Linked DNA regions of Homo sapiens. The protein of the gene in region 3 interacts with the protein of the main gene of each other region in a pairwise test. Each region holds a gene or a part of one and is shown on either strand. Other genes may lie near its edges.

The links.
Region 1: the proteins of RAP1GAP (region 3) and KLF11 interact in binary tests that used the Homo sapiens proteins (3 or more experiments, as listed by UniProt).
Region 2: the proteins of RAP1GAP (region 3) and DNALI1 interact in binary tests that used the Homo sapiens proteins (3 or more experiments, as listed by UniProt).
Region 4: the proteins of RAP1GAP (region 3) and MAP1LC3B interact in a two-hybrid assay, tested with the Homo sapiens proteins (one large-scale study listed by BioGRID and IntAct).
Region 5: the proteins of RAP1GAP (region 3) and CSNK1G2 interact in a two-hybrid assay, tested with the Homo sapiens proteins (one large-scale study listed by BioGRID and IntAct).

What each region holds. Positions count from the first base shown.
Region 1 is NC_000002.12:10,044,985-10,050,843, reverse strand, and holds part of KLF11 (Krueppel-like factor 11), read right to left. Parts: intron 5,513-5,859; exon of another isoform or gene 5,495-5,512; intron 4,695-5,494; coding exon 4,425-4,694; intron 3,195-4,424; coding exon 2,249-3,194; intron 1-2,248. UniProt on the Homo sapiens protein: Transcription factor. Activates the epsilon- and gamma-globin gene promoters and, to a much lower degree, the beta-globin gene and represses promoters containing SP1-like binding inhibiting cell growth.
Region 2 is NC_000001.11:37,561,389-37,566,939, forward strand, and holds the end of DNALI1 (axonemal dynein light intermediate polypeptide 1), read left to right. Parts: intron 1-168; coding exon 169-347; intron 348-692; coding exon 693-857; intron 858-3,637; coding exon 3,638-3,673; 3' UTR 3,674-5,466; downstream 5,467-5,551. Other genes in the region: GNL2 (nucleolar GTP-binding protein 2), read right to left, coding at 5,467-5,551. UniProt on the Homo sapiens protein: Involved in sperm flagellum assembly.
Region 3 is NC_000001.11:21,605,492-21,611,350, forward strand, and holds part of RAP1GAP (rap1 GTPase-activating protein 1), read right to left. Parts: intron 4,785-5,859; coding exon 4,629-4,784; intron 4,156-4,628; coding exon 4,084-4,155; intron 3,815-4,083; exon of another isoform or gene 3,620-3,814; intron 3,446-3,619; coding exon 3,359-3,445; intron 2,860-3,358; coding exon 2,722-2,859; intron 707-2,721; coding exon 575-706; intron 1-574. UniProt on the Homo sapiens protein: GTPase activator for the nuclear Ras-related regulatory protein RAP-1A (KREV-1), converting it to the putatively inactive GDP-bound state.
Region 4 is NC_000016.10:87,402,336-87,407,633, reverse strand, and holds the end of MAP1LC3B (microtubule-associated protein 1 light chain 3 beta), read right to left. Parts: intron 4,712-5,298; coding exon 4,537-4,711; 3' UTR 2,860-4,536; downstream 1-2,859.
Region 5 is NC_000019.10:1,974,441-1,980,299, reverse strand, and holds part of CSNK1G2 (casein kinase I), read right to left. Parts: intron 5,192-5,859; exon of another isoform or gene 4,229-5,191; coding exon of another isoform or gene 4,186-4,228; intron 1,996-4,185; coding exon 1,955-1,995; intron 1,859-1,954; coding exon 1,789-1,858; coding exon of another isoform or gene 1,699-1,788; coding exon 1,550-1,698; intron 1,442-1,549; coding exon 1,207-1,441; intron 1,138-1,206; coding exon 1,052-1,137; intron 982-1,051; coding exon 897-981; intron 806-896; coding exon 657-805; intron 549-656; coding exon 465-548; coding exon of another isoform or gene 390-464; coding exon 283-389; intron 152-282; coding exon 97-151; 3' UTR 1-96. UniProt on the Homo sapiens protein: Serine/threonine-protein kinase. Casein kinases are operationally defined by their preferential utilization of acidic proteins such as caseins as substrates. It can phosphorylate a large number of proteins. Participates in Wnt signaling.

The DNA.
Region 1 (5,859 bases), on a different chromosome or scaffold from region 3:
TGGCAGAAATATATATAAAAAGCAATCTTATCCAAGGTAAACTTGCCCAGTTTCTACTTCTCATGAAAATTCCAAGTTTACAAAATGGCACAAGGGGATTCTTCAGAACTCTTACAGTTATTTATTTTTATTTTTTGAGACGGAGTCTCACTCTGTCACCAGGCTGGAGTGCAGTGGCGTAATCTCGGCTCACTGCAACCTCCGCCTCCCAGGCTCAAGCGATTCTCCTGCCTCAGCCTCCCAAGTAGCTGGGACTACAGGAGCGTGCCACCAAGCCCAACTATTTTTGTATTTTTAGTAGAGACGGGGTTTCACCATGTTGGCCAGGATGGTCTCAATTTCTTGACCTCGTGATCTGCCTGCCTTGGCCTCGGAAAGTGCTGGGAATACAGGTATGAGCCACAGTGCCTGGCCAATTTTTTTTTTTTTTTTTTTTGAGATAAGAGTCTCGCTCTGTCGCCCAGGTTGGAGTGTAATGGCGCAATCTCCATTCACTGCAACCTCCATCTCCCAGGTTCAAGTGATTCTCCTGCCTCAGCCTCCTGAGCAGCTAGGATTATAGGCATGCGCCAGAAGGCCCAGCTAATTTTTGTATTTTTAGTAGAAACGGGGTTTCACCATGTTGGCCAGGCTGGTCTCAAACTCCTGACCTTGTGATCTGCCCACCTTGGCCTCCCAAAGTGCTGGGATGACAGGCGTGAGCCCCTGTACAAGGCCTGTTATTGAATTGGAAGTACTTTAGGAAACATGGAAGCAACTTGTTTCAATCACTGCAGGTCATTCTGTCAGTACTTCTACCAAGGTAAACCAAATAAACGGTAAAACTTCATTCAGTCACCTCCAACATTTGGAAGCTGTGCTCTGGTGTAATGCAAAGTTCCCCTGGAGAGTCCCGGTGAAATGCAGAGCTCACCAAGTCAACAAGCCCATTAAAAGAGGCAGGCAGGTCAATTCCCCTCAGAAACACCCGTTCCCTGACACAGCCCCACGTCCATCTGCCATGCAAACAACCAACCCTCATTTACTGACTAGTGTCAGGCCCTTTTATCAAGCACCAGGAATATATCCAGGTGAGATATACAACTAACTAAAAAACAAAGGGAGACTATAGTAAGACCTACAATAAACCACTAGGGTCAAAGAAGGAAGATAAAGAAACAATCTAATAACTAATCCTAGGAAGGCCCTCAGAGGGTTTCAGTAAGTAGAGATGGGCAGAGGGCCAAGAGGGAAGGGTGGAAATATGGAACCAGACATAGAATGTTGGGGAGACTGTTTCTGAATGGGCAGAGGTGAGTACCTCATGGGCCAAGTTTGGCTTTATCCTCAAAGCAAGCAGCCACTCAGTAGAATGGAGTAGTAGAGTTCCTCTTATAATGTCTGAACACCAGACTGCACTTTATTCTACACGTGGAGGCTACCACGATCAGAGCAACAGAACACAAACTCACAGAACACCTGAGAAATGGTGCCCTCACCTACTGAAGCGATTGTCTATCCAGCAACACTCAGACCACTGCTGCGCAGCAGGGCAGCCACAGGTCCCATGGAGCTATTTAAACTTCAAATACTAAAAAATGTAAAATTCAGTTCCTCAGGCACACTAGCCACACACTTCAAGTGTGAGCAGCCAGTGGCTACCCTAATGGACAGACAACAAACATTTCCACCATTGCAAAAAATTATATTGGACAGAGCTGGTTAGACAACAGAGAGATCATTAGGTCAGCATAGTTTCTTGTGTGACTTACTTTAAATTAAAAACTACTCTCAGAGGTAAGAAAACTATACTCTTTTAAAAAATATTTTAGAATTTGAACTTTTCTATAGTTTGGCCAGACCTTTTCTCACATAAACATAAGTCACACTGGTAAGATACATTTACTAAATGTGAATGAATGCATGTTTTCTTTAAAAAAAAAAAAAAAAAAAAAAGGATGAAACGTCTACTGCAATGTGAACAGAAGGGGGCACTGTAAGTCACTCTAAAAGCTACCAAAAGACACAATCACAGAACTATACTACATTTTATCTTCCAGGGCGAGCGCTCTGTAGGCAAAATCCTGATGGCTGTGCAAACAATCCCACCCTTACAAGGTTGTGCGGGCTTTTCAGAACCAAAGAAAAAGCCACACTTCCACCTTCGCCAGGGGTTCTCATGATCCCCTCCCAGCCAAAGGCGGCTCAAGGTGTGCTTCCTAACCACAGGGTCTGGTGTGCCCAATGCCCCACCTGCCCCAGCGCTTACCTGTGTGAGTGCGAAGATGGGCCTTAAGGTGGGAACTTTTGAAGTAGGTCTTCCGGCAACCTGGGAAGCTGCATACATAGTTCCTCCTTCGGGAAAAGTCTACCTGAGGGACACAGTTTTGGCTAGAGGTGATGAACACTGGAGCAGGGGCAAGGGGCAACAACTTGGTATTCCCGGCAGCCATGACATTGGCTGCACAGGGGGCAGGCGGAGGGAGGGCTCCCTGGGGCAGGACCAACATCACAGCTCCCTGAGGCACAGCAGGTCCCACGAACACAGGTTGAGGCGCTGGAGCAGCCTGAGCTAGGATGGGTCTCACAGTCCCCACAGACAACTGGGGAGGGGGCTTCAAAAAAGCTGGTAACATGCTACTTTGTCCAGTCACAGGGATCATCTGGCAAAGGACAGGGGGAGCAGGGACAGAGACAGAAATCAGAGGGGTGGTTTTCCTGGGCAGGTCATTTTCATAATTCTTTGGTGAGCAAGTCTGAACTGCACCAGGCCACCCTGCCTGCTGGCCTTTGTCAGTGAGCAGCAGGCCACCAGACTTGTGCAAGCAGGGCTGACAGGACACCAAGTTAGTGCTGAGTAAACTGTCCGTGAGGTGTGTGTCCTGCAAAGTTTCAAAGTGTCCCAGAAGCTGCTCTTCTCCTTCTCTGCTGTCAGAAAGCCGGCAATCTGGAGTCTGGATGGTGGGAAAGCAGGCAGCAGGGCTCTCCCCAGTGTGTCGGATCACGCTAGTCCCCTTGGCCCTGCAGGGAGAGCTGGGCACTGGCTCCAAACCCAGCAAGCCCCTCTCCGCGCCCCCGCTCAGAGCTCTGGCCACTACGGCAGAGGACTGGAGAACATCCGTGGCTGTACATGCTTTGGAATCTGTTACTTGGGGAGAAACAGGTGTCCTTGTCGATGGCTCCACGAGATCAGGGCTCTGAGGAGGAGTTATGCACTAAAAAAAAAAGTACCATGTTAAAAGGTTGCTTTAAATTTTAAAAGGGATTTAATTCATCACAATGCTCCCAATACCTTTACACAGAATCATCTAGACACTCAGTTAACCCTGTTTTCAACATCCCAGTGGGTTTCAAGGCTGCATGAGGCACTCTGCTTTCTCAGCTTATTCCCAACGTGTTTACCTCTCCCAAACCTACACAAGAGCCCAGTGCAGGGAACTCTGAGAGGAGCTCCTGGCCGCCAGGCCCACCACTTCTGCAACCCTCCCGACAACCCACAGGCCCTTCCTATCCCTCTCCAAATCTGCTTTCTACACTCTTCTTTCAGAGCAAGCTTCCAGCCCAGGACAATCACAATTTCCACTTCTGTTAGCAACCTACAGTTCTCAGCTTCTCCAAGCTGAGATGCAATTTTTCCAAGTACTTTCACAGATGTAGCAAATTAAAAAAACAAAAAGCAAGAGTGACTTACTGCACCCAACTCACAGAACTCACATTAAGGAGTCGGCTGCCACGGGAGGGCAGAGGTGCCACCCAACGAAGGCAATCTGATGTCAAAGTACATGCTTTCTCCAGCTGCTACCGATATATTCTGACACTAGGCTGGAGAACCTAAGCTCCACCCCGAGATTCCCCTGGGGAAGTAAATTTCACTTTCTCACATTAATCTGTAGGTTTCATCCCACGGACATTAACCACGTAGCTAGCAAGGTATGATCCATCCATAGAAAGAGCACATTTTTCAGAAATGAAAGAAAAGTTTCTTTTTTTGTTCTTTTATTTTTTTTTGAGATGGGGTCTCGCGCTCTGTTGCCCAGGCTGGAGTGCAGTGGCACGATCTCGGCTCACTGCAACCTCCGCCTCCCGGGTTCAAGCGATTCTCCTACCTCAGACTCCTGAATAGCTGGGACTACAGGCGCCCGCCACCACACCCGGATAAATTTTGTACTTTTAGTAGAGATGAGGTTTCACCATGTTGGTCTGGCTGGTCTCGAACTCCTGACCTTGTGATCTGCCTGCCTGGCCCTCCCAAAGTGCTGGGATTACAGGCTTGAGCCACCATGCCTGGCCAAAGGAAGAGTTTCTACTCCTTCAGACCCACACAGAGAGGATACGCAACTTATTTGCCAGCATCCCAGGGAATCTTCTCACAAGTTCTTCAACACACTGAGTTCAGCTACTCTAGTCATTTCACAAAAACGCTCCTCCCTCCCACCTCCTCTTACCAGAGTCGATAAAGAATGGAAGTCTTTTGGTAGTTCAGGTGTGGCTGCATCCATATGCACAGTGGTGGTGACATCCCCAGAGTCAGAGACAGGCGTGAGGGGTCTTATCCGCAACAGGTCACCTTTCTGGGATCTTTGACCCCAGGAGCTCATACAAACAAGAGCCTCGACAGCTTCCATGTCTGTCTGCTCCAAGATGCTGCAAGTAGACCTTTCGCTGTCATGCCGCTTCCTCTCCAGGATGGACTCACATATGTCCATGATGTCAACCTAAAGGCGACACAACACAACGGCTTCTCAGTGCAGGGGAAATACAGAGGCCACCCATGATGGGCATGTGGATATGCATATCAGAAGCCTACAGTAGGCATGTAATGCACATGCAATAGTCTATAGCAACAAACACCGAGGTGTAGTAAAAGACATTCAAGGAATGCTCATGACAATTCGGCTTTTAAGCCAACATTTCACAGACAGAACTAAGCTGGCAAGCGTTGCCACCAAAAATCCTGACTCTTAAAAAGGGCTACTAAGTTCATATTTTTCTTGGGTAAATGATTAATAAAATTAACTCCTGAGGTTCAAGCCAAAAAGTGGCTGGGAGGAGGAGCAGCTGCCCAGGGAGGAGGAGCCAACACTGAGGCCATCTAGTCGGTCTGCCAGTGGCCGCGGCGCCCTGACCATGGCTCTCTGAGGCGGCAAAGCCGCCAAAGCAGTGTCCCTACAGATGCTCTCAGGGACTCTGGGGCCTTCCGCCTAGGCTTCCAGCACTCCACGCAGGTAGGGCCCATGGCGATTCCACCAGTTCCCTCCACAGATTCGGGAGTGGAAGTCATCTGTTACTGTCCCAAGGCTAGCAGGTGGTGACAAGAAGCCAACCTGCCGCGAACCCGGAGAGGATCTCTTTGCAGTTTTTTTTTTCTTTTTGAGATGGAGTCTCAGTTGCCCAGGCTGGAGTGCAGTGGCACAATCTCGGCTCACTGCAGTGCCCGCCACCACACTTGGGTAATTTTTGTATTTTTAGTAGAAAGAGAGTTTTGCTATGTTGGTCAAGCTGGCCTTGAACTGACCTCCCGGGTTCAAGCGATTCTCCTGCCTCAGCCTCCAGAGTAGCTGGGAGGCGTCCGCCACCACGCCCAGAAAATTTCGTATTTTTAGTAGAGACGGGGTTTCACCATGTTGGCCAGGCTGGTCTCCAACTCCTGACCTCAGGCGATCCACCCGCCTTGACCTCCCCAAGTGCTGGGATTACAGGCGCCCGGCCTTGTTTTTTTGAGACAGAGTCTTGCTCTGTTGCCCAGGCTGGAGTGCAGTGGCACCATCTCGGCTCACCACAACTTCTGCCTCCCAGGTTCAAGCGACTCTCCTGCCTCAGCCTCCCCAGTAGCTGGGATTACAGGCGCCCACCACCATGCTCAGCTGATTTTTGTATTTT
Region 2 (5,551 bases), about 16 Mb from region 3:
TGGGCCACTGAAGGCACCCTCCCTGAGGCCCTTCTCTGAGGCCTTGCACTTTGTCTCCAAGCGAGAACACCCTAATGTCCTTCCCAAGAGGAAGGGTGTTTGCAGTAGACATACTGCAAGCCCCCTCCCCACGCCCTGTCTGATCTCATGGTGTGTGTGCATTGGAAGATGAGTTGATCCGGGAGGTCACCATCAACTGTGCGGAGAGGGGGCTGCTGCTGCTGCGAGTCCGGGACGAGATCCGCATGACCATCGCTGCCTACCAGACCCTGTACGAGAGCAGCGTGGCGTTTGGCATGAGGAAGGCACTGCAGGCTGAGCAGGGGAAGTCAGACATGGAGAGGAAAGTGAGTGGGGTTTACCGTGACCCTTGGTCCCATCTCTTCTGTAAACCTCAGGGCCACATGCTTATCATTCCAGCACTACATTCTGACCTCCTAAGGTGCTCTGCTGACAGTCACGACACCTGGACTTGCATCACCTCAGTGAGGGACCCCTGGTTGAGTATGATGGCCAGCCTGGTGGTCTTGGCAGAGTTGTTTCCGCTGTAGACGCTCCATGCCAGGCACTGACCTCCCACTGGGTGGCAGTATATACCCTGGCAATGTCATGTCCCATGTCCCTTCCACCCAGGCTCACACCATTCCATTCACCTGGCGACATCCCAGGATGACTGGGCATTCTCTCCTCAGATCGCAGAATTGGAGACGGAAAAGAGAGACCTGGAGAGGCAAGTGAACGAGCAGAAGGCAAAATGTGAAGCCACTGAGAAGCGGGAGAGCGAGAGGCGGCAGGTGGAGGAGAAGAAGCACAATGAGGAGATTCAGTTCCTGAAGCGAACAAATCAGCAGCTGAAGGTAATCAACGCGCAGGGTGGGGTGGAGGTGCCCCCTGCCCTGCGACCCAGCCCCACAGGCCAGGCATTCGGTTCCTTTTCCATGGCTTTTAAATGTTTGTCCACATGCACTGCCAAAGGATAAAGGAAGCTGACTTTGGTGGTGGGAGAAGGGGAGGGCTCCAGAGGGGGTCTCTACTCTCAACTCCAAATCTCTGAGGCGCCTCAGCCTGGCTCTCCAGTGGAGGATTCTTCTCCCTGGAAAAAAGTTGCCCATCCTCAAGGAAGAGGTGGATATGGCAAAAAGTGGAACTCCATTCCCCTGGAAGCTGGTATGTTGGAGCCTTTCTGGAGGGGGCTGGGCTCCAGGTGGCTTGCGTGGTAGTGCCATCCCATGGCTGTCTCCTCTGAGGCCCTGTTTCAGGGCATAACCAGGGAAGAAGTCAAAGGGCAGCAGGGCCCTTTGAGAGGAAGAACCATTTCAAATCAGAAACCTTCCCCAGAAATGTGGTCGGGGAACCCAGGCACAGGTGCTCTTCCTCGAAGTCCGATGCCAGCAGTGGTCTTTTATCCAGCTGAGGTGATAGGAGGGAGGGGGCTGGTGGACAAAGCTGGGCAGGAGGCCATGCTACAGGCACTGCAACTCCCAGCTGTTTGGTCCAAAGGTCTCAAAAGGTAGGCCCTAGATCAACATCGTCCTCACCTGGCAAAGCAAGACAAATTATTGGGCCCACCCCAGATCTACCAAATCAGAAAATTCGGGGTTGGGGTCCAGCAATGTGCTTTAACAAGGTCTCAGGTGATTCTAATGTTTGCAGAAGTTTGAGCATCACTGTTCTGGAAAGATGGCCTACTGACATTTAGTGGCCTTCTCCCATGGCCCTGGCCAAAGGACCCTGGATGGATCTCCCTCTCCTCCCTAGGCTCAGATAGAAACCTTACAATCTTGACATTGCAGGCTTGTTTGGTCTACACACCAGCAGGACTGGCCATTTGCGATAAAGAAGGCTTTCTGTTAACCACTACTGGAACTTTTCTTGTTGCACAAAGAAAAGCAAGAAACTTTCACAGCCAGAGATGAATCTGTTTCCTTAGCAGCCTCTGAGGCTGCTTTCCTTAACTGCCATATTCCTTTTTCATAAGCCTGAGTTCCTCAGTTCTTCCTGGATTAGCAACAAGAGCAAACCAAATACCTTAGCATGTTTCTAACATTTAAAAGCAATCTTGTAATCTCCAGGGTGAAAGATTCTTTAGAAGTTGGCATTTTTAAATTTTTTTTCTTTTGAGACGGAGTTTTGCTCTTGTTGCCCAGGCTGGAGTGCAATGGCACCATCTCAACTCATTGCAACCTCTACCTCCCGGGTTGAAGTGATTCTCTTGCCTCAGCCTCCTGAGTAGCTGGGATTACAGGCATGTGCCAGCACGCCCGGCAAATTTCTGTATTTTGAATAGAGATGGGGTTTCACCATGTTGGCCAGGCTGGTCATGAACTCCTGACCTCACATGATCTGCCCACCTTGGCCTCCCAAAGTGCTGGAATTACAGGCTTGTAATACAGGAAGTGAGCTATTTTTATTGGCTCAAAACTGCATTGCAAATAAAGCAGCTTTGCTGTCCCCAGGATAGACCTACCTAAAGATCTGTCCAGTATTATTTTATTGGCTACCAGAGGAACATAGTAAATAACTCCCAAGTGTCTTAAGCTTTACATAAAGAGGGACAGCTCTCGGCTGGGTGTGGTAGCTCACACCTGTAATCCCAGCACTTTGGGAGGCCGAGGCAGGTGGATCACATGAGGTCAGGAGTTTGAGACCAGCCTGGCCAACGTGGTGAAACCCATTTCTACTAAAAATACAAAAAGTAGCTGGGCGTGGTGATGTGCATCTGTAATCCAAGCTACTCAGGAGGCTGAGGCAGGAGAATCACTTGAACCCGGGAGGTAGAGGTTGCAGTGAACCGATATCACACCATCACACTCCAGCCTGGGTGACAAGAGCAAAACTCCATTCCCCACCCCCACCCCCCAACAAAGAGGGACAGCTCTGTATTCACTGGCAGCATTTCTCTAATTGTGTGCCAAGTTGTCTCAGTGGCTGAAAATTCACTGTTTCCCAAACCTCTGGTCCCAGCAGAACTCCCAGGATCCTAAACCAGAGAGCCAATATTTTTTTTTTTTTGAGACGGAGTCTCCCTCTGTCACCCAGGCTGGAGTGCAGTGGCACGATCTTGGCTCACTGCAAGCCCCGCCTCCCAGGTTCATGCTATTCTCCTGCCTCAGCCTCTGGAGTAGCTGGGACTACAGACGCCTGCCACCACGCCCAACTAATTTTTGTATTTTTAGTAGAGACGGGGTTTCACCGTGTTATCCAGGATGGTCTGGATCTCCTGACCTCACGATCCGCCCGCCTCAGCCTCCCAAAGTGCTGGGATTACAGGAATGAGCCACTGCGCCCGGCCAGAGAGCCAAATGTTTAACTTAGCAGACATATTCTGGCCTGAAACCTGAGCCATGAAAAGCCCTTACAACAATGCATTCAATATCCTTTTCAATGCTTTATATCATACCCGGAGCCATTATTGTGTTGAAACCAGGACAGCTCTGGCTTCTCCTCATATACTAAAGACTGTATGCCAAGCTAGAAACTAGCTAATCTAGAAAATATGGATTTGGGGATCAAGGGGAAAAAGAACCCTTGGAGTGACAGCATGTGGATTCTTCTTCCCAGAGATTTGATCACCTCTCAGCTATTTGTATCAGGCTGCAAGTTTCAAGTATTAATGGAGCTTGTTTTTGTTTTTCAGGCCCAACTGGAAGGCATTATTGCACCAAAGAAGTGATAATTTCCACATGATTAATTTCCAACAAGACACTTGGGAGTTATTTACTGTGTTCCTCTGGCAGCCAATAAAATCATCATAAGCCCTTTGTAATAAAAAGCTAGTTTCCTGAGTGAACAAGCCATAACCTCCCCTAAACACCACCTAGGTATTTGTTAGAAGTCACACTATTACTCCAATGTCATCAGACACCTAAGGTCTGCCAGCCAGGCTCCTGGCTGGGCAATGGAAGATGGTGTGGCCCTGTTAGTCTCCGTGTGTGGCTTACTAGCCAGCCTTGGGAACTGCCAACTCAAATTCTAAGAAAGCCACTGCTTTCTCATCATCACTCTATACCAATACTTATTTCTGGCCAAATGAATCTGCTTCTCTGCCCCTCAAACTTTTAGTTCACAATTCATCTTCTACCTTAACTTGGGCTTCTTGGGCCTCTGGCCTTCCTTACTTAATGTCTTCTTTTCCCTACTCTAATGCATTTCTAACTCACTTTGGAGCTTTGGTTTTCTAATGTATTATCCCCACTTGCCAGTCAACTGGACCCCTTCCTCCTCGGTTTCAGACTGCCTACATTAGGAAACAATGGCAGTCAAACCCATGGCTTTGGAGAAAGTAAATGTTTGCCAGAAAGGAATACTAGTCACAGTGGCCTTTGTGAGTTGTCTGCAACTCAGCTCTTCCCCCAGCACAGATCTGTTCCCCTTATCCTGCAGAAAATCAAGCCCTGACTCTGCACTCCCCGAAGTAGTGATGTTAATTAACAACTGAAGAGGTAACTAAATCTCACATGCAGGTCTAATGACTAATAATTGGAGTACGGCTGCTAGACAACTGCATTTTAGTATTTCTCTTCCATTCTCCTGGTTTTGTAGACCCAGAAGATTGAATGAGTGACATAAATCTTTAGTTCGGGGCAAGCCAGGGTGGGCTAGGGTGGTAAGCTGGAGGACTTCATCCTTCAGTTAGGCTGCACAAGTAACATTACCTAAAAGGCACTAACATGCTCAGGTTCCCCAGAAAGAGGCGTAAGAAGGGCCTCTCCTTAGCAGAGCTTCCACCTGCCATCCGTCTTGGGTTCAGTGAGCTTCAAGGCTCACAATGGAAGCACTGTCATTTCCCCAGAAAAGCTGTGTTCCCTATGCTGAACACACCATACACATTCTCATCTGGAATCTAAGGAGCAGCTTTTACCCTGATCCAGTATCCTGAGGAATTTTAAGCCTCCACTCAAATGACCTGCCTGTGTTGTCATTTCCATGGGAAAGAACTCTTTCCACGAGATCTGCTAGTTCCAGGCCTCTAAGACAGGAACGTATGTGCCATAAGTGGGTCTACTTCACAGACTCAATGAGGCAGAAATTATTGTAGTTTTCTCCTATTTCTTCTGCACCCAACTTTCTCCTTGTATTTCAAAGGCCAGGCCATGTACACTAACGTCCTTGAAATTTGCAGTTCTGTATGCTTCTATTCCAAATCATTCATTACCAATAAAAACGAAATACCACCCTTTCCATTTTATAGACCTCATCCCCTATTTCTGTCAGACAGTTATATGACAGGGTGACTGTGGAACCTCTTAGTTCATCCAAAGTCTACCTGAAGTGCTAGACTTTCAGACTCTTATCACTGAAATCCTTAAGGTTGAGGAGGCTTTATTTCCCTAGCACTGGTGAAGGGCTTCAACTGTCAAACCTCAGAACAAATGCATTAGGGCCTTAGAAATGTCAATGGGGCAGGAAGAAAACACAATTTCTAACTGCCTGTTTTTGTATAATTTAATAAAAACCTTTTAAACATTACTGCTTTTGTCTGAATTTTTTGCGTTTGTGTTTCTGTCCCTCTGAGTCATTGGTCTTCTTTTTGTTCCTGTTCCTATTTTTC
Region 3 (5,859 bases):
CTGCGCACACAGTAGGCGCTCACAGAGTTGATGCCCACACAGCAGCCCAGGACCTGACACACAGTGGGTGCTCACAGGTACTCAGGGCCAGGCCCACAGTAGATGCTCACAGAGTGCATGTCCACACAGCAGCCCAGGGCCTGACACACAGTGGGTGCCCACAGCCCGACACACAGTAGGTGCTCCCAGAAACCCAAGGCTTGACAGTAGGTGCCCACACAGCAGCCCAGTCCCCAGCAAACAGATAGATACTCAATAAGGAATGAGACACAGAGGCTGTCCCAGGGCTGACCTGCAGGAAGTCACACCTCAATGCATAAAGGGCCAGGAGGAGGGGAGGGCCAAGGAGCTTGGGAAGGGGCTGCAGGCTGCAAGCTGTCAGCACCGCAGTGTCCTGGCCTGGGCACTTCACCCCCCTCCCATGGAAAGTAGTGGCTAGACCAAATCCAGAGCCTAGGATGGGCATGTGGGCAGCAGGGCAACAGAGAGAGTTGGAGTCAGGCCTCAGGAGGCAGAGGAGAGCTGAGGGCCCCCCAGGGAGGGGCCGGGGCCTGGGGAGGGGGAGGGCACTCACTATTCCAGCCGCCTTGGCCAGGTCGGGGTTGTTGGGCGCGAAGCTCCCGCTGTGGCTGGTGGACACGGTGTTGGGCTTCTTGTTGCTCAGCCCCATGGCATCCATGGACTGGCTGCGGCTCCGGATGACCCGCTGTGAAGGGGGTGGCAGTGGAGGAGGCACAGGATTCCTAAGGGCCGTCCCCTTGGGGAAACCCAGGAGCCCAGGCATCTGGTCTCTCCCCAGCAATGCCACTCTGGGTAAGCCCTGGAAATCCCTTCCCCTGGGCATGTGGCCAGCAGGGCAACAGAGGGAGGTGGGGCCAGGCCTCAATTTCCCTGTGCGTCACATGAGAAGCAGGTACATACGGGGCCTAAGGGTAGCTCAGGTATTGGCTCTGCCACCAACTTGCCGGGTGGCCTTGGGGACACCACTTCAGTTCTCTCACTCTCTGGGACACACAGGCTGCTCTGTGCTGAGTGTCCTCATGTGGCTGCGTAAGGACTGCAGAAGACACTGGGTCATGGCCAAAAGTGTGCACAGAGAGCCCTCTTGACACCTCAGTTTCATTCCTGTTAGGGCCTCTTAGAGCTCTCCTGCCTTCTTTCTTTTCTTCCCTCCCACCCTCTTTCCTTGTTTTTTTCAGACCAATCTACACCAAATGCTTGCTATGGGACCAGCGCTTTACAATCACTCTATCACTGGATCCCCCTGCAAGATGGGGACTAGCAATCATGCCCATTTCATGCCAACTGAGGCAGGGGTGAGCCCGGCATGCCAGGACCCATGCCCTCAACTCTGGACTCCGCTGCTTCTGAGAAATTCTTTGACCTAATCTAGGTCCACCGTCCAGCACCTACCAGATGTGGGACCATCGGAGCCCTCCTCAAAGGAGACACCCCAGATCCATATTGACCCCACCTGTCCTGTCTCCAGTCCCCAAGCCTCTTTCTCAAAGACGATCTGTTCACCTCAGTTCCTGGGCAGGCCTGGGCAGCCGGGCTAATTCCCTTATTCCAACCCATAGCTCCAGCTGTGTGACCTGTCCTGGGTTGAGGGTGAGGTGTGACCAGCCGGCCGGGAAGCTGGAGGATGGGCAGTTATCCTCCTGTGGGTGGAGGAGACGGTGGCAAAAAGGCTACCACCTGGGGCCCTGTGGCCTGAGTGAGTCCAGACCCTGTCCAGGAACTACTCCACTCCCCACACTTCTCATTTCAGACAACATTTGCTGAGGCAGACAGGCAAGGTTTTGCATTTTGCTTTTAAACTTGTATTGCACTAACCTAACTCTTTTACAGATAACAATAACTGTATGAGGCAAGTTGCCATTACCCTACTCAACAGATAAAGAAACTGATGCTCACAGAATGCCCAAGCTGGTAAGTAACAGAGCTGAAATTTGAAGTGTCCGTGCTCTTAATGCTAAGCTAAACCAGGGACAGGCAGGGTAGGTCACACAGGCCAAGTCCCTCTCCAATGATCATGGTTCACACACCTCTTCTGAGAACTCTATTTCTTTCCCTCAGTCAAGACAGAGCCTCTTCCTCTCTTCTCTTCCTGCTGACCTAGCAGCCTTTGTACCAGCAGCCCTTGCTGTCTCCCAGAATCCTCCACCCTTCAGCAGAATTCCCAGGTGAATTCCCCACCTAGGCCCCACCTCCAACAGTTACTCCTCCCCAAGCCAGGGCCCCACCTTACATGCTGCTCCTTCAAACTCTACCCAAGGCAGACTATGTCCCCAAGTGTAAGCCCATTCTAAAGCCCAAGTCCACTTCGAGCCCCGCCCTCATCCCAGACTAGAGCCTCCTCTAGCCACACCCCCACGCCATGTCCATTAGCCCCGGCCCCTGACTCCACCCCCAGCCACGTCCCATCCCAGACTCTACCCGCAGGCGAGCGGCCTCTAGCCACACCTCCACACCATGTCAATCAGCCCCAGTCCGGGACTTCGCCCCAGCCACGCCCCCTCTCAGACTCCAATGCGAACGGCCTCTAGCTGCACTCCCCATGCTGTGTCAATCCCCCAGTCCGGGACTCCACCCCCTCAGCCACGCCCCTTCTGCCAGACTCCACCCCCACGCCGTGTCCATCAGTCTATCAGCCTCAGCCCGGGATTCCGCCCTAGCCACGTCCCTGCTCCCCGGCCAGTTAGACCTGGGGCCCTTCACCTTGAAAGACTCAAAGAAGCCGCCGCCCCCACTGCCATTCTCCATCTTGTCCTCGTCGCCGCCCAAGCCCATCATGGACTGGCTGTGGATGTGTAGTTCCTCATAGAGCGTCTCCAGGAGGGCGGCCCGCGTCCGCTCCTGTGGGCCAGGCCCGGGCCGTCAGGAGGGACCCCAAGGATCAGCCCTTCGGCCCACAGTTCAAATCCTGGCCACCTTCTGAGGCACGGGCCACCTTCTCTGAATGAGTGGGGAGTGGGGAGGGCGGAGGGCTCCTGCACCGCCTTCCCCCAGGCCACTCCACAGCTCAAGCATCCCCCAGGGACCCTCATATGAAGGGCCCCTCAAAGCCCCTTCAAGATCTGGCTTCATGTCCCCACCCCCCAGGTCCACCCCCCCACCTGACAGGTCCCAAGGTGTCCCTGTCAGCCTAACCGCCTCCCAGCATCTCCTGGGAACTCCTCAGTATCCCTCCGGCTTCCTCTCCCCGACCTCCTACTCGTCCATCAATCCATCCAGCCCCAGGTGTCCCCGCTAAGGCCAAGGTCTGAACATGGCTTTTCCCTTCCCAGGGACAGGGCTGAAGTTATAGGTTGGAAGGTGAGAAGAGGGTCACCCAGCCCTCACAGCCCATCCTCACCTCCAGTTTGGCAAACTTCTCTGCCTTGTAGCAGGCATATTCAGCATTGATCAGCTTTGTCAGCAAAAATTCCTGGAACTCAGGCCCCTGGAAACTCCCAGTGTGGAGGAGATAAGGAAGGGAAGTTGAGATGACACATAAACAAGGGTCGGAACCCCAACGAGGCAGAGGCTGCAGCTCCTGAACCATGCTCTGCTGGGGCCTGGGGTCACCCTCTTCACTCCCAAAAGGGTATCTCCCTGGGCTCAGCTCCCCAGGTACCTTCAAGGGGCCCCAGTGCCCTTCATGGCTGCCCACGCCTTCGGGAGAGCAAACTCCACAGATGTTAGGGTCTGGGTTGGGGTCTCAACCTACTGCTTCAGTCTAGGGTAGCAGAACACGCTACGTACAGAGCTGAAGCCCAGGCTTGAAGTGTGCCCCTCCCCAAACATTTTAGAAGAAAGAAAGAGACTGGAACTGTCAGAAAGAGAACAGAAATGAGGAGAGGCCAGTCTACTATGGAAAGTGTAAAACAATCGTGTAGTTTATCCTGTGACCTTGTGAAAAAAAAAAAAAAGGTGTTTTCAAGATGAATGGAAAAGCCAGGCCCCGGTTGCAGTTAGGGGAGCCCAGCTGCCCTGGCATACAATGAGACTTTGGGACCTCATAAGGCAGAATGTGTATGCACCCCCCAGGCCCCCACCCATTTGTCCTGCTCTGCCCATGACTGGGGGGGTGCCCCTCACCTTCCTGAACACAGCGGGGTCCGGGAGGGGGGGTCCAAAGAAGGGCACATCATCTCTTGCAGTGACAGAGACCTGGAAGGGAGGGCAGCTGTCTGTTCCTGTGGAGCCTGGGGTCTGCTCTGCCCCACCCAGCCAGAAACCCCTACTGTGCCTCCCTGGACTGCCCCTTGGTCGGGGAGACCCAGTGACTGTGGGCTGGATGAATCTTTCTTCCAGAGATTTCTGCCCTCTATCTTTTGCCCTGAATTTTAGTGGTGGAGATGGGTAGGGGCCTTAGGAATCATCGGGATGGTGAAGGCAGAGGAGGCTACGGGAGGTGGAGGACAGTGATACCAGGCCAGGAGGCAGAGGAGGGAAACTGTCCTCTCTGAGGGGGTGAGCTTTGGGGACGACAGGGGGCGTGGTGTGAACAGTGCACCATTGAAGCCTTCCATGGTCCCCCCATTATAGCTGGAAAAAGTGAGGCTCAGAGGGGCATCCCAGGGAGGGCAGAGCTGCAGCCAGGGCCCTTGCTGATGCCCCTGGGAGGCTCCAAGAGCGCCCACCTTGTAGAGGGGGCCATCAGGGCCCCCGCCCTCAGCCTGCACCACGACGTAGGCATGCAGGAAGTTGGACGCGATCATGTCGGGCACGAAAGGAGTGTTCTCATCCTGGAAGACCACAGCCACGATGTCGTTCCCGATGTGCCGCTTCCGCTGCAACTGAGCACAAAGCCACGGGCCTTCGTGGTCTGGCCAGAGGGGGCCCATGGGGGAGAGGGGTGCCCACGGGGGTTTAGGAGGGTTTGGGGTAGTCAGAGGGCACATCTAAGGATTTGCTTTCCCCAAAATAATGTAGCAAAAAAACTTGTCTTAAAACTATTTTAGTTGAAAAATGGCCTGTTTGGAACAACGTACACTCTTTAGGTGATGAGGGTACACTAATATCCCAGACCTCACCACTATTCAATTCATCCATGTAACCAAAACCCACTTGTACCTGGATATCTATTGAAATTACAAGAAAAATTATTTTAGTTTTCTTGGGATGCTGTGGCAGATGATGATATCAAGGCCGAGAGAAGTGACTTGGAAGGTGCTATAATGAGCTATAATGAGCTTGGGGACTCGAGCCCAGGTCTCTTGGTCCCCAGACCCTACCTCTCAGCCCTTCTCCTATCTCAATGCCCCAAACATGGCCCCCAATTGAATAAACAAGCTCAACTTGGTATACATTCATGTTGCTAAAATGAACACAGACCCTTAGTAAACGAAAGTCAAAAGACACTAAAAATAAGGAATAGCTATTTCCATTTTTCTCACATTTCCTTTTATCCCCCTGGGCTGGGGACCTGACTGGGAAGGCAGATAGCCCTGTAGGAGGCTCAGGACAAGGGGACACGCTTCTGAGTTCAGTTCCTGGCACATGCCTTGCATGTCCTCGAGTCCAGGCCTTTGTAGAAGCTGTTCTCGCCACCTGGAACATTTCCCTTCCTTCTCCCAGCTCCTTCACGGACTAAAAGTCACTTTCTCTTGAAAGCTTTTCCTGACTCCCACCTCTGCCAAGACTACATGTCCCCACATGACCCCATGATGCTCTCCACTCCCCATAAAACACCAGCTCAGATCTGCTGAACTCTTGCAATGTACTAGGCACTGTTCTAGTCCCTCTATGCACCCACGCATTTATGCTCACCTAGGAAGTGGGTGCCATTCTGACTGTAGAAACCAAGGCTTTCTGTCTCCCCTGACCCAACGAGACCCCACAAGTGGGGGCGCTGATCATTTCCATCTCCAT
Region 4 (5,298 bases), on a different chromosome or scaffold from region 3:
TCTGTCAGATATTAAAGTTTCTAACCCTGTTTTTTTAATCTCCAAGAATGGGGAAAGTGGAATGTAGAGATGGAAGCAGAACGTGATGTTTGGATACAACAGCTATTTAATCCTTTTTTATTTTTTAAGCAAAACACTCAGTTTTCTACCTTATTTTCTAATGTTGATTTCATGGTAATACTGACAGTTGGAAGTGTTTAACATAAAAACTCATTGCTAAAGAGCACTGAGGAAATGGGAGCTAGCGCACTTGTAATAAAAATAAAGACAAAATATTTTCTTGAATGCATATATGTGATTGGGTATTTTAAAAACCAGTATCATCTGTCATCTCCAAAAGATTACAGGAGTCAGCTTGTTAATACAGTAGTGTTAGTAGGTTCTGTATTTTTAATTCAGTACTTAGAATTCTAGGTCCTTTATTGCCCAAAGTCAGCACAGTTAGTTTATACCACAGACTCTGTCTTGGGGCACAGTAGTGGGGCGGGGTAGTGACTTTGCCTAAACATCACCCAGCTGGAACAGAGGCTGAGCGGGGCTTTAGGCACTTGCCAGATGGGAACTGGGTTGCACCCTCCTTGCTCCCTGTCATTTTCTTGTCACTCTTCCTGCTTCCCAGTGTTTTATTTTATGCCTTGCTCGTTGTACATCATGATGACTGATGGTCTTCAAGGTTGTGAGGAAAGCCGTCTCCCTGCTTGACTCGACTGCTGTCCCAGAGGAGAGTCCTGTGCGACCTGAGCGGGGGTGGCTGCCATTTCCAGCATGCAGGTGACTTCCAAAGAATGAGTCAGGTGGCACTGAAAGCCATGGGTTCTGAAGAGGCGAATTTGTTGAAAAGTCCCAAGGGTCTGAATGAAAGCATCTTTAATCAACACTCAACACTCGCAATATTCTAGAAAACCATATACTGTGCTGGTTGAGGCCAAAGGTTAACATTGCTCCACTGTTCACCAAGGAAGGGGGCAGTGGCCATCCGCCGCGGCCTCACGTGCGTTGTAACAAGCCCTCATCACATGTGTGAGTCTTACGTGCACAAAAAGAGAAGGCTTTGGTACTGAAACTGGACACCTTGTGTACTCGATACCTTCACAGCTTCTATTGGACATATTTTCTTTTTAGGAATGAAGGAAAATTCTCCCATTTTTGAGCCATTCTTTTGTCAATTCTACAAAATTGCATGTAACTTTATAAATATTTTTAAAAGATATAGTTTTGTAAATATTTAATATTCCGCTAATTTGATTTTGAATTGTAAATGTCAAGTATTCTGTTTTTGGGGTTTTTATGTTTTATTATACTTTGTTAAAAAGGACAAATTGTACATTTTTAGAATGTTTTTATGAGTAAATTTAATGTACTGAAAATAAAAATTTTAAAAAAGGCTGTTTTATTTCACTAGGTCTTTGTCTCAGAATATGAAGCACACACCTTTTCACATCAGTCTGAATCTCCAAACTAGGGGTTCCATCCTTTCTAGCCTCTCACATTTACAGCAGGGATACCTCATTTTAAATCTGTTGATTCTCAATCAAGTTGCCAAGTGTTTTGTGTTTTTTTTTTTTTTCCAGATGGAGTTTCGCTCTTGTTGCCCAGGCTGGAATGTGGTGACACGATCTCAGCTCACGCCAACCTCCCGGGTTCCAGCGATTCTCCTGCCTCAGCCTCCCGAGTAGCTGGGATTACAGGCATGCGCCACCACGCCCGGCTAATTTTGTATTTTTTAGTAAAGACTTGGGCTTCTCCATGTTGGTCAGGCTGGTCCAGAACTTCGGAGCTCAGGTGATCCTCCCGCCTCAGCCTCCCAAAGTGCTGGGATTACAGGCGTGAGCCACCACACCTGGCCAAGTTTTGTATTTTTTTTTTTTTAAGTGTCCCTGCTAATAACAAAGACGTAAATTCCTGATTTGGGGTTAAAGATGTTCCAGCACGAGTTCACGAGTTTCCATGAAAATGAAAGTTGGCATGAATGGATCTCAAGATACCTTGGCAATGTGGCCCTACCCTGAAGTAGCTCTTTCCCAGGGAGGGAGCAGGCCTGCTGCGGAGGTGGGTGACACAGTGACACAAGCCACCAGCTGCCACATCAGCCTGTGACTGACTCGGCATTGTACAGAATCGCTTCCATGGCATCTAAGACCACACCCTTCTGGATTTGGGAGGTGGCAACATACTGAGCATGTGCTCTGGTGATGTCAGGGAAGTGAGTGGGGCTACAGCACCCACGGGGAGCTCCGAAGACGGGACAAGGGACGCAGACGCTTCTATTGAGCAGCTGGCCTGGGAAGGCAGTTTTCTCAGGTCACTCCCTTGTATTTTTCAACAGACTTTTAGGTGCCTACTTAAACGGGAGCTGGGCTCAGAGTTCCCTAGATGATGAGGTTGGCCACTTTTTGTCTGGTCTGAGTGCTGAAGTGTGTGTGTGCTGCATCTGTACACGATGCCAGCAGCTCCCCACTGGGTCCCCCAAGGGTACACTTTCTCGACCACACACACATACCTAATAAATACTTATGGTGGTGGGTGGTTTACAGCAGTAGGTTGTTGGGTGTTATAGTCCCACAAAACATGTAGGTCAATTCGCATCCATCCTGATAGCCCGTGGCACGTGAGTTCTCAAGAGGACTTGGCTTTGTAAAGGCCAGACCTGGTGGCAGGGCCTTGGCCAAGGTGGAGGGTGCCCTTGACAAGGCAGAGGCCCTCGGAGGGCAATGCTCATCCACGTGAGTGCCCCCTCTGCACGAGAGGACCAGCCTGGATGCCCCTCCTTGGAAATACAAGGACCCGCTTGGCTTTGGAAAGTACAAACAGTGTGGGATCCAAGTCTCAAATACGGAATCCCATTAAACTGGGCTTTGATGACAGTTTTTAATTGTGCCTTTATTCAACTTAGTTCATTAAAAATGTTTTAAAGATCCTATAAATAAAGTGACCACTCACATGGGATATAGGTCACCCCTCAGCATGTTATTTTTTTTCTTAAAAAGCAGTATTTCTTACAGGAATCTTACTGATCACACGGTAGTTACAATAATGTCAGATATGATGTATACAGTCTAAACGAGACAGTCCAGTTAAGAATATACATAATGTAAAAATACACATATTAAAAGTTAGCCAAGTGGACAGACGCATGCGGGGGTGGGGGGAGCAGGTGACAGGAACTCCTTTAACAATCAGTAGAGGGCCCAGATGCAAAGAATCTGGTTTTCCCCGTTACAGTAAACAGCTTTCACTAACGTATACAGGTATTTCATACACATCTAAACACACAAGGGTAAGTTGTGACCTGCTACACATAGGGTCTAAAGTGGTGTAATTGTGATTTTCCTGTGATACTCCCAAGAAAACTATAAATAGTGAACCCCATGCAAGTACTGGGAAGCACTAGTCTTTTATCACAGGTTGAACCTGAGGAGGTTTAACTCTTGACATTAGTATCTGTAAAGAGCGTACGGCTCTTTTTGCTATGTTTTCTCCACAACTGACATGCACTTGGTGTGGGAGAATTCTGATGGCTGTCTGACCTAAGAGTGATAACTACTATTCAAAATGTGGGTACCTTTTCAGTAATACTGAGTTACACATTTAACATTAAAAAAACAAAAACGTGGATCATCCACAGCTTTAAGCCGGAAGGCAGAAGGGAGTGTGTCTGAATGTTAATGTTTTCAGTTATACTATTTTGTGTTTCTCCCGCTGTACTCCAGAGTGACACTGGTACACTGCTGCTTTCCGTAACAACACAGGCACTAGTTTGAACTCAGACAAAACCTGAAACAGAAGAAATGCCACTCTTTCTCCAGGGTCTTTTAAGAAACTCGATCAAAATTATAAATTATTCAAGTTTCCTTTTGAGTGGTGTCTTTATGTGTGTAACTATCTAGAGAACAAACCAAACCAGAAATGTCTACCCCTGCAAGAGTGAGGACTTTGGGTGTGGTTCTCTTAGGAGTCAGGGACCTTCAGCAGTTTACAGTCAGGGCCGTTTTCTCACACAGCCCGTTTACCCTGCGTTTGTGCCAACTGTGATGGCAAATGCGTTTTGCGGGGGTTGCGCTTCACAACTCAGGCCTAAAGATCCTCTTAGGGAGATCTCTCTAGCTGAGTAGAAAACTTCTACCCAAAAAGGCGGCGGGTTTTGTGAACCTGAAGAGAAGACTCAGGGTCTCTCTGAAAGCCTTTAAATTACTGCTGGAATTACAAGTTCCTATTAGTGAGAAAAGAGCATTAAAATAACTTGAAGGTCTATTTTATTGGCAACTTAGAATGCAAAGTATTTTATTTTTAAACTTTTAAAATTTGAAAACAAGCTAGCCTACATTAAATAATATAGTTTCCAAAGCTGAATGTGCTCACTTGGAGCTCAGTTTTTCTGCTTGAAACACAAACACAACTTCCTAACACTCCTAGGTGGGAACACTACTGTTTCATGATCTGTGATTGGATGAACTGATCGATCTCAGTTGGTAACATCCCTTTTTTTTCCTTGGTAAGGGTTTAAACAATTCTAGAAGAGCTGCATTTTTTCTGGTTTTACACTGACAATTTCATCCCGAACGTCTCCTGGGAGGCATAGACCATGTACAGGAATCCATCTTCATCTTTCTCACTCTCATACACCTCTGAGATTGGTGTGGAGACGCTGACCATGCTGTGTCCGTTCACCAACAGGAAGAAGGCCTGATTAGCATTGAGCTGTAAGCGCCTTCTATTGAAAGAAAACAACGTGAAGAAATATTGACAACAATACAAGAAGGATGAAGCATGTGTTAAAATATCACCCACTCTGATCGGTAAAATATAAAAATGTTCTAAATGCTCTTGAATCCAATACTTCTCATAAAGCACAGGACACTTCCTTTGATTATATTGACATGAGCTATAATCACTGAAAGATTACATATTAGGCTGATTTTAAACTAGTATACTGTCTGAACAGCTGTTAAACTGTCTAATATAAGAAAGCAGTTCAAATACAGTTTCTGAACTATTCTAAGATCTAAGCCTGTGCCATTTACTGCCACTCACAGAGTCTACATTCTCTTTAACTAGCTTTGCTGTACAATACCTTAATAACTTGTAACACTGATTTTAAACAGGAAACATCTAAACGATGTTATGATGAAAGAAACGGGCTCTGCAGTCTAGCAAGTAATATAAAACCTCAAAAAAAGAAACATTTTATAGTTTAAGTTGAAATTGTTTTAATCATAACTGAATCAGAACTGAATTCAGCTGAAAAATATTTTTTAAAGATTTTAACCAGAACTAAAGATTTAACTGTAAGTTTCATAA
Region 5 (5,859 bases), on a different chromosome or scaffold from region 3:
CCCTGGGCCGCTGTGGGTGGGCCCCGAGGGCCTCGCACAAGGTCGCGCCCCAAGGGGCTGCACGGAGAAGATTCAGGGGGCTGCACGCGCCCAGGGTCACTTGTGTCGCTGCAGCGATTTTCTCTTTCTCCTCTTGAAGAAACAGCAGCATCTGAGGAGGGCAGTGGCTCAGGTAGGAGGACCGGGGTGCAGGGCGGGGGCAGCCCAGGCCTCAGGCCCTCCCACCCCCATGGGGACCCAGGGCACCCCCACCTCCCCGAAGGCACCGCCCCAGAGCCTTACTTGGTTTCATCGGCCACCTCCACCTCTGCAGGCGCTGTGATCGGGGCGTTGGAGTGGCCGGCCGTGGGGTCGTCCGCATTCAGCTCCCCGTTGGTGGAGTTCAACGCCTGGTGGGGGCAGTAGGGGGTCACGCTGGCCGCCCATGCCCCTCCCTGGGGCGGTCGGTCCCGCCCGGGCCTCACCTGGTTTTTGCTGTGCGGCTGGGTTTTGTCCCGGAGCTGAGGCTGGGAGGGCAGGTCGGTGTGGACGGTGCCGATGGGGGTCGGCTGTGGGTGAGGGAGCAGGGGTCAGGATGGGCTGCAGCGCCGGTTCCCATCTCCCTCAGGGCAGTTTCCCGGTCCCCCGCTCCCACATACCGGCACCCCCCCACCTACCAGGGGCTTCCCGGCCCAGTCGTACTCATAGTCGAACACGAAGCCACTGCGGTCGAAGAGGTCGGTGAAGAGCTTCCGCAGGTAGTCATAGTCGGGCTTCTCGAAGAAGTCCAGGCGCCGCACATAGCGCAGGTACGTGGCCATCTCCTCTGCAGAGAGAGCGCCAGCGGGGCCTCGGCGGGGGTGGGGGTGGGGGGTGGGGGGTGGGGGGCACAGGGCGGGGGCGCAGGGACCCCTTACCTGGGAAGTTCTCGCAGAGCACCTCGATGGGCGTGGCGCGTTTGGTGTCCCCGATCTTCTGGTACCGCTCCTTGAGCGTGTCGGCCTGCGGGGGTCTGTGGTCAGCCTTGCTCCCGCCCTGCGTCCCCGCCCGCCTGCCCGGCCTCCTCGCCCACCTTGAGCCCCTGCCAGGGGAGGCTGCCGCGCAGGAAGTACATGAACATGTGGCCCAGCGCCTCCAGGTCGTCGCGGCGGCTCTGCTCTGCGGGGACAGGGGCGCAGCCTCAGCGGGGTCCGGGCGCCCGCCCCCCGCCGCGCGCGCGCAGCTCACCCTTGCCCAGGTGCGTGTTGATGCTCATGTAGCGCGCCGTGCCCGTCAGGCTCTTGTGCTCGCGGTACGGGATGTGCTTCTTGGTCTCGGGGTCGATGTACTCCTTGGCCAGCCCGAAGTCGATGATGTGGATGGCATGCTGCCGCTTGGTCCCCGGGCGGCCCACCAGGAAGTTCTCGGGCTTCACGTCCCGGTAGATTAGGCTCTTGGTGTGCACATACTCCATGCGCGTGATCTGCAGGGGGGCACGGCGGTGTCGGCCGGGCCCCTCCCCGTCCCACGCGCTCCCCTCCAGGGCCACCCTCTTCCCTCCGAGCCCCGCCCCGCCCCGCCCGCCGCGCACCAGCTGGATGGCGATCATCAGCACCGTCTTGAGCGTGAAGGTCCGGTCGCACAGGTCGAACAGGTCCTCCAGGCTGGGCCCCAGCAGCTCCAGCACCATGGCGTTGTACTTCCCGCACGGACCGAAGTAGTAGACCTGAGGGACGCCCTCTGCGGCGGAGGACAGACGCACGGGCGTGCGGCGGCAGCCCCCTCCCTGCCCCTGCGCAGCCCCCGCCCCACCCGCGGGCCGCCCGGTACCTGTGGCGCTGAGCTGCTTGTAGAACCGGTACTCCAGGTGCAGCTGCGGGGCCCGGGACTTGATCGGCTCCTGGGGGCACAAGAGCGAGTCACCAGGGGACCGGGTCGCTGCCCTGAAATCCCTGGGGGGCACGTCAGCGGGGGTGGGGTGGAGGGGCCGACTCACCAATTTGATAGCCACGTATTCATTTGTATAGAGATTCTTTCCTGCGGGGACAGAGACCATCAGCACCGCCAGCGCAGGGCCCACCTAGCCCCGACCTCCCCAGCCCACCCCCGAGGCAGGAGGCAGGAGGGGGTCCCTGAAGGACCACCCTCCAAATGACACCACTGCCCAGCAGCAGGGCCTGGGCCCAGCCTGCCAGAGCACTGCACCATGGCCTGCCAAGTCATCCCGACACCTGCACCCTGCCCGTGTGGTCACCGCCTCAGTGTCTGCCACTCCTCCTCCCCCGCCCCCCCACCTCCCTAGCCCAGGACAGAAGCGGCACTGGGGAGGTCTCTCACGGCCTGCAGGCAGCCCCAAGGGCTCCACACTCCTCCACCCCTTTCTCAAAGACAAATCTCCCACATGCCCGAGGCCCTCGGCCCCCAGGTGAGCCCCAGCACAGATGGACAGGGACCTGTGGCCCACATGGGTTAGAAGAGAGGAGCCCAGGTCCTGTTCCCTGGGGCCACCAGCCACATAGGACTTCCAGGGCTGAGTCTCATGAAAGCGCAGAAGGTACGAGGCCCAGAACCTTTTTTTTTTTTTTTTTTTTGAGACGGTGTCGCTCTGTTGCCCAGTCTGGAGTGTAGTGGCGAGATCGCAGTTCACTGCAGCCTTTGTCTCCCAGGCTCAAGCCATCCTCCCATCTCAGCCTCCCAAGTAGCTGGGACTACAGGTGCGCACCACCACACCCAACTAATTTTTGTATTTTTAGTAGAGACGGGGTTTCTCCAAGTTGCCCGGGCTGATCTTGAACTCCTGAGCTCAAGCGATCTGCCTGCCTCAGCCTCCCACAGGGCTGGGATAACAGGCGGGAGCCCCTGTACAGGCCAGGGTGCAGCTTTTTACATGTTACACCCCCTGAGGAAGGAGGCGGCCAGCCCTTAACACAGAGGCGCTCTGCAGGGGCAGCTGTGGAAGCCGGCCTGGGAGGGGGCACGGCCCCACCCACTGTGGTGACTCAGCACCCGAGGGGTGAGCCTAGAGGTGAACAGGCCGGTCCCTGCAGGCACACGGCCCTGGAGGGCTCCCCACGGCAGCTGGGCCAGACGACAGGCATGAACGTGTCTGGCACCCATGTGTCTCCAGCCCAGGATGGCACTGGGGCCATAGCTACCATCTGCTGGGCGACCTGTCCCGCGGCATGACAGGGCACCATGTGGGGCAGCCCCGTCTCTCAGGCACCATCCAGCTGGGTCACCGTGTTGGGTCTGCAGTCAGCTGCCTTTGCCCGAGTAGCATACGCTGCAGAATGAGGCCTCTGTGGCCGGGCACGGTGGCTTATGCCTGTAATCCCAGCACTTTGGGAGGCTGACGCAGGCGGATCACCTGAGGTCGGGAGTTCGAGACCAGCCTGACAAACATGGAGAAACCCCATCTCTACTAAAAATACAAAATTAGCCTGGCATGGTGATGCATGCCTGTAATCCCAGCTACCAGGGAGGCTGAGGCAGGAGAATTGCCTGAACCCGGGAGGTGAAGGTTGTGGTGAGCTGAGATGGTGCCATTGCACTCCAGCCTGGGCAACAAGAGAGAAACTCTGTCTCAAAAAAAAAAAAAAAGAAAGCAAGAAAGAGGCCTCCACTTTGTTCCGCCCTGCTGCAGCTGGACTGGCAGGGTGGCCGTGGAGACAATGGGTTTGGAAACCCTGCTAAGGTGGATTCAAAGTCCCAAAGCCCGGTGGCTGAGCTGTACACAGTCATGACCTCATAGTCTGAGGCTGGGGTCCCACCTGGGCCCTGAGAGCCTCTTCCCCCGGCTAGTGCCCCGTCCTGGGCGTGCCTTGCAGCACAGGAATCGCTGGGGCTCCTTCTGGCACTGCCCTGTCCGCATCACTACCTGGGCTCTATTTCAGCACAGTTTCCAATCAGCTTGTCAAGTTCCCTAAACAGCCTCAACAACGTGGCATCTTGAGGGTGCAGGATCGTGAGGACGAGGGAAGACCAGGTGCCTCCCTGCAGCCCTGAGCCCGGGACCAGGGCTGGTCTCTCCAGTCCTGAGCCAGGGACCAGGGCAACCCCTCCAGTCCTGAGCCGGGGACCAGGGCTGGTCCCCGCGTTTTCAGAACAAATGGGCTCCCCTCCTACGTTCTCCCCAGTGTAACACGTTATTAGGAAATTCTCCTCGTAAAACAACAGGAGCCGTGCCCCAAACACCCAACACTCATTGCCGAGGCCCCAGAACTAAACCTGCCACACGGTCCATCCTCACAGCTACCATCCACCGGTCCATTTTATTTTTAGAGGGATTTCAAAGTTTTTTTCTTTTTGGAGCAGAGTCTCGTTCTGTTGCCCAGGCTGGAGTGCACTGGCGCGATCACGGCTCACTGGAACCTCTGCCTCCTGGGTTCAAGCGATTCTCCTGCCTCAGCCTCCTGAGTAGCTGGAATTACAGGCAGGCACCATCAACCTGGCTAATTTTTGTATTTTTACTAGAGATGGGCTTTCTCCATGTTGTCCAGGCTGGTCTCGAACTCCTGACGTCAGGTGATCCGCCCACATCAGCCTCCCAAAGTGTTGGGATTACAGGCGTGAGCCACTGTGCCTGGTCAGATTTCGAAGTTTTAGAGCTCAGGACACTGCCCCAGGTTTGAAGTTTTAGAGCTCAGGACACTGCCCCCTGAATCAGCTGCAGGTTCAGTCCAGCATTTGCGTGTCCTTCCTGCGCTGCCCTTCGGAGGTGGGATTCACAGTGGATTCATCCCCCCTTCCCCGCCCAAAAGGCTGCCCCTGCGGTGGGCTCCTCGCCGTGTCGTGCTGCGTGTGCCCGCCTGGTGCTGTGCCGCGGCTCACAGGGAGGATGGGGTTTGGTTTGCCCATCTGCCCTTGAGGCACGCCCTCCCGTCTCCAGTTCTGACTCTCCAGAGCGGAGTTCCGGCGAACACGGCTGTGTAGCTCTTCCTGCGGGCAGCCGTCCCCTTCTCCGGCAAAGTGTCAGTCACGTGCTGACCACCAAGCACTGAGCTGCGCTCCCCCAGGCTGAGGAGGACAAGCCCTCGCCTGTGTGCTACACCGTCCCTCTGCTGTCTGTCGATGTATCATCCAGCTGTGGCTCCCTGACGGGCAGGCGGATGCTCGCCAACGTCCTCCCCAGCCTGGCTGGCCTCATGCTCTTGGCAGCGTCTTGATGGGCGGGCCTTTGAAGCTCTGATGCATCTGATGGTGATGGGGTCCTTCCCGGCTCTTCTACTCTGCACTGTGGAAGAAACCTTCGCCTGAACCCCACCGCTGTGTGCGGCTGGCGTGTCAGAGACCTGGGTGTGTGCTGGGTGGGTGTGGCAGCATCTGAGGCCTGTGGATCTGCAGACTCCTGGAGGAGGTCGGGCGCTCTGGGCTCTGAAAGCCAAAGGGGCCTCCTCCGGCAGTACTCGCGATGCATGCAGAGGGCAGGAGAGCCCACGGGGCCTGGCAGAGAACAGCTCCAGAGAGGCTCAGGAGGTTCCGGGGGACACACAGGAGGGAGGACGCCACAGCTCCAATGGCCGGAGTGCGGGGTCCTCCCTGGATTCTCTACTTCAGCTGAGAACCCAAAAGGTCCACACCTTGGCACAGGGCTCCCTGGCCTTGGAGTCGCTCATGTTTACCCTCAGCCTTGCCCCAGCAACGCTGAAACCAACCTGACAGAAACAAGGTGAGCCACGGGGACAAACTCAGCGCTCAAGCCGGGAGACGGCACCCTCCACACCTCACGGCACACACCACGGCCACGCCCAGTGAGGCTGTCCCACAGGTGAGTGAGGGAGGTGTGACCGTGACAAGGGAGGAAGAAGCAGCACAGACGTCACTCCACACAGTGCTGTGTCTTTGATGCACCCCCCAAGGGTCATGTGTTGGGAACCTGGTCCCCAATCCAGCACTGCTGGG